Linked DNA regions of Homo sapiens: region 2 is linked to region 1. A link means that fine-mapping ties the variant in region 1 to the expression of a gene that starts in the linked region. Tissue or cell type: whole blood. Region 1 holds a variant in brackets; the other region holds the start of a gene. All regions are shown on one strand. Distances are between the middles of the regions.

Region 1 (8,116 bases):
CCATATTCTCCAGGGTGGTCTCAAACTCCTGACCTCAGGTGATCCAAGGGCAACGTTATCTAGCAAAAAGAAGCTTATTTCATAATAAAGTGTTGAATATCATATAATTTATTGAATAGGTATTGAAAGGGAAAAACAGAAGGGTTGTATAGGTACTGTACTGAATGTGTGTTGCTTTCACACCATCATGAAGTCGAAAAATCTTAAGTGAACCATTGTTAACTCCAGGACCTGTATATGATTTCAAGGCTTTCTATGTTTCCTTCTAATCATGTATTAAAAGCTCTCCTGTTTATCAGTGTTTTTCTCCTTATGAGTCTGTCAATCAATTTTTCTTTATAAAGTTTGCTTTACATTATGTAAGGCTGTTATAGTTGATAGAAAATTTTCATTACTATGAAGTGTTTCTTTGTATATCTTAAAATGTTCTTTTCTTCAAGGACTATTGTACTTTGTCCAATATTAATATATTTTAAAATTAGAGAAAGAATATGAGGCCTAGGACGATAGTCTCTTTCTCCATTAGAATATTTTTGTTTATGTCAGGTACCTGCAAACACTAACAGAAAAGGTTTACTTTAATCTATTTTCAGGTACGAATGTGATTTCAAGTTTTGCTTCAGTCCCCTAGTGAAGATGATCTATTTGCCCTTTATCTTTACTCCTGTAGTGCAGCTCTTTGGGTTTTACTAGGTACCCTTCTCCCGATCCCCAACTTCTTCCCCAAGGCCCTTGAACAACAGAATCGGTAGGTACCACCAAGACAGACACTTCCACTCTAAAATTGCAAATCTTGGCTAAGATTTGCTCTGGCTTTCTAGGATACCCGGAAGCTCAGGTTACTCGGAAGTATTTCCGCTCCAAGGAGCGGAACTATGGCCGGTTTCCCCTGGGGCATTCTGGGAAGTGTAGTCAGGGGCCCGCGTAGCCTGGGGCACTTCCGCTTTTGGATGGCGGAGCTAGGGAATTGTGGGAAGTGATCCGGGGTTTCTCTTTAGTTGCTGGGAAGTTTTTTCGCTCTAGGAGGGCGAAAACAAGTGTTTGGATCCGCTGGGACCCTCCAAGTTTTCTCAGCCTCGTCAGGGAGCAAGCGGGGCCCTGGCCCTCGTCTGGAGGAAGGCTAGAGAAGCTGTGGCCAGCTGGGAGGCTGGAGTTGGGAGCAGTTTGTGTTCTTTCCTCTCGGCTGAGCCTCACGTTTGGAGCAGTTCTTGCGTCCCCGGGTTGGGAGCGTCCTGGATCGGTTGTCGCTTGGTTAGAGGGTCTCCTGGCGTTCCGCAGCCAGCCTCTCCCACCTACTTGCCAGCTCTGCCACTTACTAGTGTTATAACGTTTTGTGAGTTAATCTTAATCTTTCTCTATCCCATTCTCCTCATTCCTGAAGTAGAGTCATTAGTAGGAGGTCCTTGTACTTTTATACGAATTATTCATTAAATGTCCAAAATACCGTTATGTGGTAGGTACCACTTATGTTCTAACAGAGAGACGAAGATAATAGACCTCTCCACACAATGTAGAAAAGAAAGCTGTCTTATTACTGAATAAGGACAACCACTGTATAGTATTGTAGGCAATCTAAAGAAAAATATTATTAAAAAATTCCGCCCTATGTGTACAGTCAAGCAGTTTTAAACTTTTTATACAATTCTACTTTTGACCACTATGTACATCAGTTCTCAAGATTAATGATTTTTCAATAAGAGGACTTGGTCTCATCATTTACTGCAAATTCTTTTATAAATTTATTCTAAATTTACTTGAGAATCCAGTGTTAGTTAACTAACTTTATCGAAAGTAATAAAACTTCTCTTACCTCATCTGCTAGCCGATTTACAGTTTAAAGAGAGGCACCTTGGTTAAACTCTTGCAGTGATAGGGACAGTGGGTTGTTATTTTCTCAGATGTTTATATTCAAAAGGGACAAATCTCAGAACTTTCACAAATACTTCTAGGTTGTAAACCTGGCTAGAGGCTTACATAGCCGCTAATGAAATTTACATGCGTATCAAAAGGTTAGAGAAAGGATTCAGAAGCACTAGGTTTCTTATGGAAATGCTCTAAGAAAAAGAAGAGGGAAGACGAACCCTAAAACGTACAGTTAGTAAGAGGCAGAACGTCCATATGAACCCAAGAAGTTGGAGCCTCAAGTCTGTGTTCATATTCTCCACGCTGTACATTTTTCTTAGAACCATATGAAATAATCGTGTATATGGTTTGTGGAAGTCTTTTTCTATCAGGTTTGGAAGGTGATCTGGGGCTTTAGAGTCTATATTCTCCTTATAGAAATAATGCATGACCATTATAGAGAGATTAGAAAATACAGAAATGTATAAAAGGAAATGAAAGTTACCCATATTCACTGCTGTATATTTAAACAATTAGCTGGGTGTGGTGGCACATACCGATAGTCCCAGCTACTTGGGAGGCTGAGGTGGGAGGATCGCTTGAGCTCAGGAGTTTGAAGCTGCAGTGAGCTATGACCACGGCACTGCACTCCAGCTTGGATGACAGCGAGACCCCGTTCCTTTAACCCATAATCTCAGGATTTAGAGATAACCACTGCTAACATTTTAAATGCATTTATGCATTGGTGCCATACCACCCACATGGTATTTCTCTAATTTTTCTTGTAGAAATTCCCAAACATGCACATACAGAAAATAGTGTTAATGACCCCCACCCCGCCATCATTTGTCTTTAACTCTTGTAAACATTTTGTCTATCTTATTGCATCTATTACTCTTCTCCCACATATGTTTTTGGTGGGAAGAGGAGGAATTTGACTATTTAAAATCAAAACCAAATCCTAGTCAGTCGGTAGAAATTAAAAGTAATTAACATAAAGTAATTATGAATGAAGAGCAAAGGAAAGCAAATAACTTCAGGGTTTTCTTTCCTGGCAACTAGGAGGAAGGTAGTTATGTGAAAAACCTAAAGGAGAGGGAATCATTGAGATTTGGAAAGGAATAGTTATGAATTTGGCTTCTTTATTTGGAATGTTTTACTCAGGGTCTTTTATTTATTTATTTATTTATTCATTTTTATTTATTTATTTTTGAGACGGAGTCTCGCTCTGTCGCCCAGGCTGGAGTGCAGTGGCGCGATCTCGGCTCACTGCAAGCTCCACCTCCCGGGTTCACGCCATTCTCCTGCCTCAGCCTCCTGAGTAGCTGGGACTACAGGCGCCCATCACCACACCCGGCTAATTTTTTGTATTTTTAGTAGAGACGGGGTTTCACCGTGTTAGCCAGGATGGTTTCGATTTCCTGACCTCGTGATCTGCCCACCTCGGCCTCCCAAAGTGCTGGGATTACAGGCGTGAGCCACAGAGTCCGGCCTACTCAGGGTCTTTTAGATCTGATCTGTTTCTCCCTTAGGCTGCATGTTACTTTGTTGCAGGAACTATGTCCCATTCTTTACCATGTGCTTAGCACCCAGCACAAGACTGGTAAGGAGGGGTTTAGTGTTTGTGGTTTGTGGAGCTGCCCAGTATCTTGAAATGGAAACCTGCAGATCATTTAGATTGTATTCAGAATTCCCAAAATGGATTTAGGAAAAAATAAAAGGAAATAATGTCAATATTAGTGACTCTTTATCTCACTTTTGGTGGGATGCATTTGCATAGTCTTCTAGTTTTTTTCCCAGTAATCAAAAGTTGATGCATGGTTATTGATAATATTTTAGTGATCAAAGCAAATTTTTGTAGAAACCTTCCATCCATAATTTATGTGTCCTGTGTTTATCCCCTGAGGTTAACATTTGCTAACTTTTTATAGGGTAGTCATGAATCAGGCAGAATTTCCAGTGTTTTACATGTATTTATTCATTTGTACTTGATATCAACCCTATTATAGTCTCCATTTTACAAATGAAGAAAAAGGGGACAGAAGAAATGGAAGCACTAGTATTTTAATCTAGATAGCTTTATACTAAGGCTGTAATATTAGCTACTACACACTACTTTTATTAGTCTACAAGGCAAGAACCCACAGTAAGTCTTATTAGAGCAGGGAATATTTAAGCTATGGATGAAGACCGTCACCCAGGAGGGAAAAGAGTAGCAGGTTATGACAGAAGGAACACCAAATACAAAGAATTAGAGGCTTTTTGTAGGAGTACAAGTAATCCACTATGGCTGGACATGTAGAGTGGAAAGTGGATTCCAAGAGAGAAACAGCATCTGGAAAATTCCTGTTT[G/T]TGCGACTTGTTAAAGCATTTGAACCTTCTCTTAAGGGCACTGGATAGACATGCAGGTGAAAATAATCAAATTTCCATCTTAGGAGATATACTTAACCTCTCTCTGCCTCTGGATCCCAAAGAGTAAACTAGAGGACATTATTTGTTTTAAAAAAGTTGTGAAAATGGGCTAAGTGTGGTGGCTCATGCCTGTAATCCTAGCACTTTGGGAGGCCGGGGCGGGTGGATCACCTGAGGTCAGGAATTCAAGACTAGCCTGGCCAAGATGGCAAAACCCCGTCTCTACTAAAAATACAAAAATTAGCTGGGCGTGGTGGGGAGGGGGGTGCCTATAACCCCAGCGACTTGGGAGGCTGAGGCAGGAGACTTGCTTGAACCTTGTGTGAGGGCGGAGGTTGCAATGAGCCGAGGTCATGCCACTTCACTCCAGCCTGGGCAAAAGAGCCAAACTCTGTCTAACAACAACAACAACAACAACAACAACAAAACAGAACAAAAAAAAAAAGAAAAAAGTTGTGAAAATGTAGTGAGGGTCCCATAGTCTGAATAGTTTGAACTAGTTCCTGGCACATACTTGGTTCTTTATAAGAGATAGTTGTATATAACAGAATAAAGAATATATATTTAGTAAATGAGAACTGCAAACATGTACTGTAGTAGATATGTGGATATTTTTAGGTATTGCTCTCTTCTTTCAACCCTCAATTCTTGGAAACATCAATTCCATTATACATTTAAGCAAATAAAGATCAAGGTTTAAACACTGAAGTAATAAATTTGTTCATCTTTCAAATTCAGAAACTCCTTGAGGAATGATTACAGAGGCCCTAGTTGCTTTGTGGAGTTGATCTACCATATGCCAAAGCTTGTGTTTTCTATGTCTAGCTATCCTCAGTAAGCAAGTTGTTCTGAATTATATGACTGTGCTATTAAGAAAAGTGGAAATCCATAATATATTCTGCCTTCGTTGCATTTTTTGATTGCTCTTTCATTCTTTTAGTATCTAAAGAGTAGTTTTTCTATTAGTCGATCCTGTTAAATGTAAAAACTTAAAGGGTTTCCTCTGCCCTTTTTTTTTTTTTTTTTGGAAGTGGTGGGTATAATTCTATTAGTACAGGATCACGTGATCTGTTTCTTATAATAGTTTTTTTTTTCTTTTTTTTTTTTTTGAGACAGAGTCTCACTCTGTCGCCCAGGCTGGAGTGCAGTGGCACGATCTTGGCTCACTGCACCCTCCAGGGTTCAAGCGATTCTTATGCCTCAGCCTCCCAAGTAGCTGGGACTACAGGCGCGCGCCACCACGCCCGGCTAATTTTTATATTTTTAGTAGAGACGGGGCTTCATCATATTGGCCAAGCTGGTCTGGAACTCCTGACCTCGTGATCCGCCCGCCTCGGCCTCCCAAAGTGCTGGGAGTCTTTTTTTATTTTAGGGCTCCAATTCTTCACATATTTGCTGTTACTTTTTGTTAATAAGAAAAACCTAAATTCCACTGACATCAGAGAACTGCTTCAGCCTGGCTAAACAGCAATAAGCCGTGAAGAGGATTCTGGATGTTGTAGTCCGGGAGCTCCGAGAATTTTGTCACACTCTCCGTAACCCTCTCTCACTCGCTCGCTCCGTTTTTTTTTTTGTTTTTTTTTTTTTCAAGCGCGAAGAGGGCGGCACCTGGATGGTTTTTCCTTCTGGAAGTTCTGGGAAACGTATTCCAGAACTCTGTCCGGAAACAATTGGGCCGCAGGAGCGCGGGCCTTCTGGGAAGGGTAGTTCAGGAGCTCTGGGCAGGCAGAGCCACTTCCGCCCCGGAAAGCGAGGCCGCCACCATCTTTTGGGTCCGGGAGGTGAGTCAGCCCTGCACCCCCACGACCCCTCTTGAACCTTTTCAGCCTGTGCTTGGGAATAGGCGCTCCCCAGCCATCAGTCTTGGGATGGAGAGGTCGCGGCCGCGGCGGAGGCCGAGAGGCCGAGGGCGGGAAGTTTGCTCTCCTCCCGCACTTGGCAAGCAGCGCCGCTAGTTCTGTGGGTATAATAAACAGCGAGTTACCTATGATCCGCGCTCCTGTTTCCTCATCTTTAAAATAGCAATAAAGATAGTCGTTACTGTGTAGGGTTGTAATTAGAATTAAACAAGATAATACGGGTCAAACCTTAGAACAGTGGTGGCACCTGATACTGGGTTGGCTCCTGCTATTGATACAGTGATTCCCTCACAAGCGCCCTTTTTACTGGAAGCTCCAGTGAAGAGAGAAGAAAAGTCAGGGCTTTATGCCATGGCCTTTCTGTCGTATCCTTCAGGAGACCGAGCTCTTCCCGAACTTTTACAGATCTTTTTTTTTTTTAAGAAGGATTGAGTCATCGGGCTCCAATGCGTGGGGATGTTTACCGCCGTTTATCCGGGATAGAGACTCCATCGTGCTGACAGCATCCTTTTATTCACCGCCTCCGAATTTGCAAAGAGGAGGAAGGAGGGACTTCTTGGCTTCTCCCAGCATAGCCCCAGGTACCTGCTCTTGAACGCACTTTGTTGTTCCATTTTCTGTCCTTTCAGTTAATCAAGTTTCCGTCACTCAGTAAGTTACTACTGAAAAATGATGAAATATTTGTTGAATAAATGTGAGAGTGGGTAGGAAAACTACTTGGAAATGAGTATTACCAATAACATCTTACCACTTTGATTTTAAGGCATTCGTCTGTGGACCATAGCTATTGATGAAGTAGGTCTTGTTATTTTGTTATGAGGAAATTAGGCAGAGTTTATGTTATTAAATACTTTCCCGAAGTTATTCAACTGATAGTAAGAGGTGGATTTGGGATTGAACCCAAGCATTCCTTTTCAGACTGTGTGATCTTTTTTGTTTGTTTTTGTTTCTTTGGTTTTTGTTGTTGTTTATTTTCTATTCCTTTTTCTGAGTCTGTGGTCTTAATCTCAATGATACAGTCGTCTTCAGTTATCTTAAATAGTAATCCATATGGCTACCGGTGAGTCGTTGGAAATCAGCCTTGGGAATGTAGGTATGGATTTTACTGTGGAAGACCTCAAAAACTGCACTGATGAATTTTGAATTTTTTAGAAAAATCCTGCAACATCTCACTTACTTAATTTCATTCCATGTCAAAATATGTCATATTCTAGTTATAGAAGTAATGAATGCTCATTATAGAGATGCACTATCCAATCCAGTAGCTATAAGCCATGTGTGCCCTAGGAGCACTTGAAATGTGTCTAGTCCAAATTGAGATGTGCTGTAAGTGTTAAATACACACTGGATTTCAAAAACTTTGTACAAAAAATGTAAGATGGCTCATTGATAATTTTTTGTATTATATGTCAAAATGGTAATATTTTGGATACATTGGCTTAAATTATGTTGTTGAAATTAACTTCACCTATTTTTGTTTTTGTTTTTTTGCCTTTTTTATATGTTACTGCTAGAAAATTTAAAATTATTTATGTGTCTCAGTATATTTCTATTGGACAGTGATGTTATATTCAGAAAACTTAAATTACTTATAATAAAACTGCTAACACTTTAATGTGTTTCCCTTTAGTATATGCTATGGATGTTTCTCAAAATAGGTTTGGTATTCTGTGTAGTAGTTTTTTTCTTATTATGAAAATTTTCTTTTTTCTTTTTTTTTCTTTTTTTTTGTGAGATGGAGATTCACTCTTGTTGCCCAGGCTGGAGTGCAGTGGCGTGATCTCAGCTCACTGCAACCTCCACCTCCCAGGTTCAAGTGATTCTCCTGCATCAAGCTCCCGAGTAACTGGGTTACAGGTGTGCGCCATCACTCCCAGCTAATTTTTGTATTTTTAGTAGAGACGGGGTTTCACCGTGTTACCCAGGCTAATCTTGAACTCTTGACCTCAGGTAATCCGCCCACCTCGGCCTCCCAAAGTGCTGGGATTACCGGCGTGAGCCAC
Region 2 (8,116 bases), 46 kb before region 1:
GTGTTCCTCTATAATAATTTGACTTTTGATATTTTCATTCCTGTATTGACCTGAAGCTATTAAAATGGCGGCAGGTATCTGTAATGACAGGATAAAGAAAAAATATGGGCTTTGGAAGATCATAGACTATTGCCTTTGTAGCATAATGAAATCTATACATTTTTATGAGTGAGTGTGTATGTACATGCATAAGATAATATGTAAAGGATACTTTTTTTTTTTTAGCAATTTTCTCTTGCAATGAGCATTTTGTGGTATTTTTCCATTTTATAATTCCATAAATTACATTTTAATTTCTTATTGAACATCAGTATTACCAAAGCAGTAAATTATGTACATTAGAATTTTAAAAAGTGCTATATGATAATCCCTTCAAAATATGATTGTTCTATATTGTTATATGGCACATAAGATCATAATTAATAGATTCTGGAAGCCAATTTTAAAAACAAAAAAATTCTCTGAATATGTGGATAAATGGATGAGTGTGAACAATTGTATCTTTGCAATTAATGTCTGCTACACTTCTTTTTTTTTTTTGAGATGGAGTCTTTCTCTGTTGCCCAGGCTGGAGTGCAGTGGTGCAATCTTGAATCACTGCAACCTCCGCCTCGCGAATTCAAATGATTATCCTGCCTCAGCCTCCTGAGTAGCTGGGATTACAGGGGCGTGCCACTATGTCCAACTCAGTTTTTTTTTTTTTTTTTTCCCCGAGACGGAATCTCACTCTGTTGCCAGGCTGGAGTGCAGTGGCGCAATCTCAGCTCACTGCAACCTCTGCCTCCCAAGTTCAAGCAATTCTCCTGCCTCAGCCTGCTGAGTAGCTGGGACTACAGGTGTGCACCACCACGCCCAGCTAATTTTTGTATTTTCAGTAGAGACGGGGTTTCACCATGTTGGCCAGGATGGTCTCGATCTCTTGACCTTGTGATCCGCCCTCGGCCTCCCAAAGTGCTGGGATTACAGGTGTGAACCACCGTGCCTGGCCTAAATTTTGTATTTTTAGTACAGACGAGGTTTCACCATGTTGGCCAGGCTGGTCTCGAGCTCCTGACCTCAAGTGATCTGCCCGCCTCGGCCTCTCAAAGTGCTGGGATTACAGGCATGATCCACTGTGCCCGGCCTTGCTTGCTACATTTTTTAAAGCATTAATCTGTAACACAGAGAGAATCCTGGAAATGAAAACAAAGTGGTATACATATGTTAGGGAGGTATGTTTAAAAAGGTTCACTGAGGAAAAAGTGTGCATAAGAGCAGAATATAGTGCAATCCACTTACTGGATGTGGAACCAGTAAGGACAAAGAGTGGGTTTGAATGACATTCCATATTCCTTGGACATGATGGTGATATTTTCAGTGTAGTTGATTAAAGCATGGGTCCCTAACCCCTAGGCCACAGACCCTGTTAGGAACAGGGCCAGACAGCAAGAGGTGAGCAGTGGGCAAGTGAGCAAAGCTGAGTTCTGCCTTCTGTCAGATCAGTGGCATGAACCCTATTGTGAACTACGCATGTGAAGGATCTAGGTTGCAGCCAGGCGCAGTGGCTCATGCCTTTAATCTCAGCACTTTGGGAGGCTGAGGTGGGCGGATCACCTGAGGTCACGAGTTGGAAACCAGCCTGGCCAATATAGTGAAACCCCATCTGTACTAAAAATACAAAAATTAGCCAGGCATGGTGGCAGGTGCCTGTAATCCCAGCTACTTGGGAGACTGAGGCAGGAGAATCACTTGAACGCAGGAGATAGAAGTTGCAGTGAGCCGAGGTTGCGCCATTGCACTCCAGCCTGGGCAACAAGAGCGAAACTCTTTTTTTTTTTTTAAAGAAAGGATCTAAGTTGCTCGCTCCTTGTGAAAATAAAATGATAAATGTAATGTGCTTGAATCATCCCCAAACCATCCCCATCCCCCCACCTCACCTTGTGGAAAAATATTGTCTTCTGCAAAGCTGGTCCCCTGTGCCAAAAAGGTTGTGAACTGCTGGATTAAAGGGCTTTACTCAATAAATTATATCTAACTGGGGAGACTTTTTTCCACTATTGATTTTCTTCAGTATACCTTCACTGGATGCTTGCTACTCATTAAGGTCCATGCTACCTCAATGTGCATGGTATGCTGGGGATTGATAATACCACCTTCACATTCTTGTAATTCACTAGGAGGACTCAAGACACCCTATGTTATCATAGTCACTATGATTTATTGTAGTAAAAGATACCAAGTCAGTTGAGCAAAGGGAAAATGTGCATGGGATGAAGTCCAGAAGAAATCAGGTACAGGCTTCCAATAATCCACTCCCTGTAGAATCATTCATGATGTACTGTTTTTTCAGCATTGAAACATGTGAAATGTCTACCCAGTAAGCTCAATGGAGACTTAGTGCCCTAGGCACTACGTTGTGTTTTGTTTTGGAACTGGTCACATAGGCCAGCTTGGGCCAAAATTCTAGATTCCCAGAAGGAATTCAGCATAAATCACATTATACAAATAGCCGGGGCATGGTGAGCCACTCTCATCAGAGAATTGTGGAAATCCTCCTGAAATTCAAGTTCCCAGATACCAGTCAAGGGCTAACCTTATATCTTGCGCTGCTATAACAGAATACCACAGATTAGGTAATTTATAAACAATATAAATTTATCTGTCATAGTGCTTGAGGCTGGGAAGTCCAAGGTCAAGATGCTGGCAGGTTTAACATCTGGTGAGGGCTGCTGCTGTCTGCTTCCAATATGGCATCCAGTTGCTGCATCCTCTGGAGGAGACAGATGCTATGTCCTCATATGGTGGAAGTGATGAAAAAGCAAGAAGGGATTAAGTTTTAACAAGGGAACACCATCAAACTATAGCATGTTGCAAGCAGGCCTTTTAAGTACAACAGTCTCAGGCCTATGTTAACTCTTTTCTGAACAAAGGGCTTCAGAAATCCAGTACCTATATTCTTTTCTTTCTTTTTCTTTCTTTGTATCACCAGATACCACATTAGGTCATCTTCCTTCAAGGTAATTTGTAACCAAAACCAGTAGACTAAACCAAATAATTTCTTGCCCCTCTGCCCCATAACTGATAAGACTGTAGGTACAGTCTACATCTACCCTCCTCATGACCAGAGTTTTCAGGTTAGTCACAAGACAGCTGTAGAAGCTGGGAGCTATCTGGCTTTGTTTTTGGTTGGTTGTTGTTTGTTCACAGTCAAGAGGAGAGAACTGTTTCATTTGTAATATTGTATAGTTCATGTCTCCCAAAATGCATGGCTACTCTAACTCCCATTCACACACAAGATTAATTCCTTAGCTCTTACCTAGTATGCCCAGCCCTTGTGGGATCATTCAGTTTTTTCATCTGTGGGCCTAACTTGCCTGTTCATCTTTGGCCGTTGGGATTTCCCTGTCTTAGCTTTGAGTTTAGCTACATTTTAACGCTTTAGGGGATATTGTCACATAACATTTTTCTATCTTTGAAAAGATCCACAATATTATGTAATGATTACCACTATCTAATCCTAGAACTCTTTCATCTGCTCCCAAAAGAAATCCCCTACATGAGCTGGGTGTGGTGGTGCATGCCTGTAGTCTCAACTACCCAGGGGGCTGAGGCGGGAGGATCACTTGAGCCCAAGAATTTAAGGCTGCAGTGTGCTATGATCATGCCTGTGAATAGCCACTGTACTCCATTCTGGGAAACATAACAAGACGCTGTCTCTAAAAAAGTAAGAAAAAAAAAACCCTACATATTGACAGTCACTCCCCATTCCCAACTACATCTCCCCAGCCTTGGAGACAACTAATTTACTTTCTGTCTCTATGGACTTGCCTATTCTGCACATTTGATATAAATGGAATCATACCATATATGGTATCTTGTGTCTGGCTTCTTTCATTGGACATAATGTCTTCAGAGTTCATCTATGTTATAACATGAATCAATATTTTGTTCATTCACATTACTAAATAATATTGCATTATATGGCTAGACCACATTTTGTTTATCCACTCATCAGCTGATGGACATTGGGTCTTCTCCACTTTTTGACTATTATGACTAATGCTGCTATGAACTTTTTTAGAACAAGTTTTTGTGTGGATATCTTTCAGTTCTCCTGGGTATTTACTTAGGAGTGAAATTGCTGGCACATAAGCCCCAGATCGGGTGCCAGCAGATTCAGTGTCTGGTGAGGTCCCGCTTTCTAAGTCATACATGGTCCTTCTGGCTGTGTCCTCACATAACTAAAGAGGCAAAGGAGCTCCCTCAGGCCACTTATAAGAGAGCATTAATCCTATTCATGAGGGCATTGCCCTCTTGATCTGATCACGTCCCATAGGTTCCACCTCCTAATATCTTCTTGGGAGTTAGGATTTAAACATACGAATTTGGTGGGGGCCATAAACACTCAGACCATAATAATACCTAAAGAGAAGTGAGGGATTCTGGGAAATGAAAACCAGGAGCTCAAGGTAGTTGGACACTTCCACATCAGAAGGCTTGGACATTCCGGAAGTGTAGTCCAGGAGGGCGGTACTGTTCTGTTTTTCCCCCAACTCCAGCATTCTGTGATATGTAGTCCGGAGTTCCGTGTAGTCGCGCATAGCTCAGCTGCAGTAAGGCTGTAAATGTTTCCCCTGCGGAATCCTGGGAACTGTAGGTCCAATCGTTCTAGGTAGTTGTAGGCACTTCCGGCTCGAGGAAGGCAGTGCTGTGGAATTCTGGGAAGCGTAGTCCAGGTCCTCCTGATACTCGCAGGCACTTCCGCCCAGGAAGACGACGTAGCAGCCATCTTTTCCCTGGCTTTGGTGATTCAGGTCAGCTTCTCAGGAACCTTTCAAACTTCCCCGAAATGCACTTGTGGTCAGCAGCTAGCGGTCTTTTGTTTGGGGAAAAAAAGGAGTAGCGGCTAAGAGCGGAGGTTTGAGGGGCCAGGATGCTGTTTTGCGTTTCCCTGGGCGGAGCTTGTTAGAATTGGGGGCGTACTGGCTTCGGGCGGCTGGGGTGATGCTTCGTCGGGTTTGAAGGTCTCTCGGGCTGTTCGCTCCCTCATTGTGACTCCCCCACCTAATGAGCCAGCCCTACCACTTCATACAGTATCACATTGAGCGAGTTAGTTAATCCCCGTGCCTTCGTTTGCTGTTCTGAAGGAAAATAAAAGCAAAAACTTCCTAATAGAATGTTTTGAGAGAAAACGAGGTAATACAAAAAGTGTAAAACTGCCTGGCACGTGAATTACCAATACTACTGTAATTTTCCTAGAAACTCCCGTTCTGTGGCGAAATTCTGTGAGTCCATGAAGCTGGATTGTCCCTGACCTCTTTTGAGGAAGGAGAGGGTTGCTTCTAACTGGTCCTGGGAGATGCCACTGTGATGTATCCGGGATGAAGACACAATCCTGGTTACTTCATAGCCTGTTTTTCTTCCCCAGCCCTGACTTCTCAAAAAGCACTGCACAGAGGAGGAGGCAGCAGAACCCCATGTGAGTAAGACTTGTTGTTATTCTTGTTTTATTCACATAAATCAGAGAATGTGTGGGGTCATGTATTTGGGCATGAGAAGTGATTATAATTTAGCGTTAGTTGCTAAGTTCCATTCTAAGGGGTTTATACAAATGAACACCTTTCCACTATACAGTGGCTCTGTGAAGTGATACTCTTTTTCCGAGGAGACTGAGACATAAGAACATAACTTGTTTGCTCATAGCCACCTAGCTAGTAGGAGGCAGAGCTAGCATTGAAACCGAGGCAGTCTGAGTCTAGACCTGAGTCTTCTTTGGTATGTTCTGCATGAGCCATAGGCAGCTGGCTAGTATCATGTGAAAATAGGTTGGGACTTCACTGTGGGGACTTTGCTCAAGGTCTGGGCTATTCTATGACTTTTAAAAAATAGTGGCTGGGCACAGTGGCTGACGCCTGTAATCCCAGCACTTTGGGAGTCTGAGGCGGGCAGATCACTTGAGGCCAGGAGTTTGAGACCAGTCTGGCCAACATGGCGAAACCCCATCTCTACTAAAAATACAAAAATTAGCCAGGCGTGGTGGCCAACACCTGTAATCCCAGGAGTTTGGGAAGCTGGGGCAGGAGAATCGCTTGAACCCAGGAGGCGAGGCTGCAGTAAGCTGAGATCACACCGGTGCACTCCAGCCTCGGCAACTGAGCAAGACTCTGTCTCAAAAAAAGAAAAGAGTTTTTAAAAATAGTTTTCTCAATTATTAGTTTTATTTGTTTCAAATAATATAGAGGTAACACATAATCATGGAAAACACAGAAATACATTTAAAAAATGTAAATTCCCCATGACCTTAGGGTATAAAGATAACAACTATAGTTTAGTGCCTTTCTGTCAAGTTTTTCTTGTATATATTTCTGTTTATTAGGGGCTGTTTTGGGAGAGGGACTGAGTACAGTGCAACACTACTCAAACTGTGGTTCACAAAGCAGCAACATTGGCATCACCCAGGTAGAAAGGCTCATTCTTGAGCCCTACCGAAGGCCTTCTGATTTAGCATTTTTGCAGATAGGACCCAGAAATCTGCATTTCAACAAGATCCCAAGGTGAGCGAGATGCATGTTAAAGTTTGAGAAGCTCAGGAAAAGGTCTTATCTGGAAACTCAGGACTAGAAAACTGACCCTGCCAGATGTCACAGATAAAACTGAGCTGGCCATACTAGAACCCTACTCAGTCCAGTGATTTTTCTTTCCCACTAAATATTAACTGTCAAGTTTCTTTGCAAAAACCATGACATGAGTAGAAGGCAGCTGTCAAGTCTAGAGTCAAAATGGAGAAACTCAGAGTCCTGAAGATCTATTTCTCCCAGGCTTTGGGGAGTAGATTCCTTCCCATCTTTTGTACTGGAGGCCTTCTGCCTGAAGTGGGAAGATCAGCTACCTATTTATTGTTAATTAACGTTAGATATTATTGCCATAGTTGTCATCATCTCGTCATCGTTATTATTCTGATTAATGACTTTCCTAATTTCTTTAACTTTTTTTTTTTTTTTTTTTTTGAGGCAGAGTTTCACTTTTGTTGCCCAGGCTGGAGTGCAATGGCGTGATCTCGGCTCACTGCAACCTCCGCCTCCCAGGTTCAAAAGATTCTCCTGCCTCAACCTCCCAAACATCTGAGATTACAGGCACCCGCCACCACACCGGCTAATTTTTTTGTATTTTTAGTAGCGATGGGGTTCCACCATGTTTGCCAGGCTGGTCTCGAACTCCTGACCTCAGGTGATCCACCCACCTCGGCCTCCCAAAGTGTTGGGATTATGGGCATGAGCCACCGTGCCCAGCCAACTTTTTTTAAAAATATAATTTCAAACTTGTAGAAAAGCTGCAAAAATGATAACGTAAGGAAATCTCATATACTCTACACCCAGATTCACCAGTTGTTACGTTTGTTTGTTATGTTATGTTTTCCCTGTGTGCTCTGTTGATGACCATCAGCCATCACCAGGAACATACCTGTAACCAACAACAATTGTTTGTTTTAGCTTGCTGCATCCAAGGAGCCCACACATGCATGGGGTGTCTTGGTAAGAGGCAATTAGGAGGACCCTGGTTATAGGGTTTTGGTTTATGTTAGATGAGTTGGGGAGAGTTTTAGGCAATGGGTTTGTTCTGGATTGGATGCTGTGAAGAAGCAGTAGTAATTTGATCAGACTATTGTAATTTTTATGTTGGAGGTGGGGAAATAACAAGACTGGAGTTGTCACTGATAACAAAGTGGTCATGTTAGATGGAAGAGGCAATTATTTGGCTATTTTTATCAATGTAGGATGTATTTCTCTCTGTGTTACAAGCTGTTTTGTTTTTTTCTTTTTCACCATGATCACTGAGTAGACCTGTCTCATTCTTGTTGATAAATTGGAAACACCAGGTTCTGGTTGTTGCTGCTGTTGTCAAAGTAGTTTTTTGTTTTGTTTTTTTTTTTGTCTTTTTGCTTTCACAACTTTGTCATACTTATATTTTGTTTTTGTCTTTTTGCTGAAGTATTTGAGAGCAAGCTAGAGATAGTGATGAAAATGAAATTAGTTACATTGATAACTTACTGTTATCTAACCCACAGTTTGTATTTAAACTTACTCCATTTTCCCATTAAAGACTTTGAAAGTAATTTCTTCCCCCAGATGAGTTTCCA

Evidence for each region. PIP is the estimated chance that this variant, and not a neighbour inherited with it, causes the effect.
Region 2: it holds the start of ZNF226, and the variant in region 1 is fine-mapped to the expression of ZNF226 in whole blood (INTERVAL, PIP 0.93).

Annotation. Positions count from the first base shown.
Region 1 is chr19:44,206,551-44,214,666 of GRCh38, forward strand. ZNF227 (zinc finger protein 227) reads left to right here and starts at 5,982. Exons shown (of 6, transcript NM_182490.3): 1 at 5,982-6,035; 2 at 6,540-6,694. RefSeq lists enhancers at 1,119-1,218, 1,229-1,278. The variant G/T (reference allele first, on the strand shown) is at 4,195.
Region 2 is chr19:44,160,350-44,168,465 of GRCh38, forward strand. ZNF226 (zinc finger protein 226) reads left to right here and starts at 4,751. Exons shown (of 6, transcript NM_001032373.2): 1 at 4,751-4,793; 2 at 5,408-5,458. RefSeq lists enhancers at 4,443-4,592, 4,653-4,772.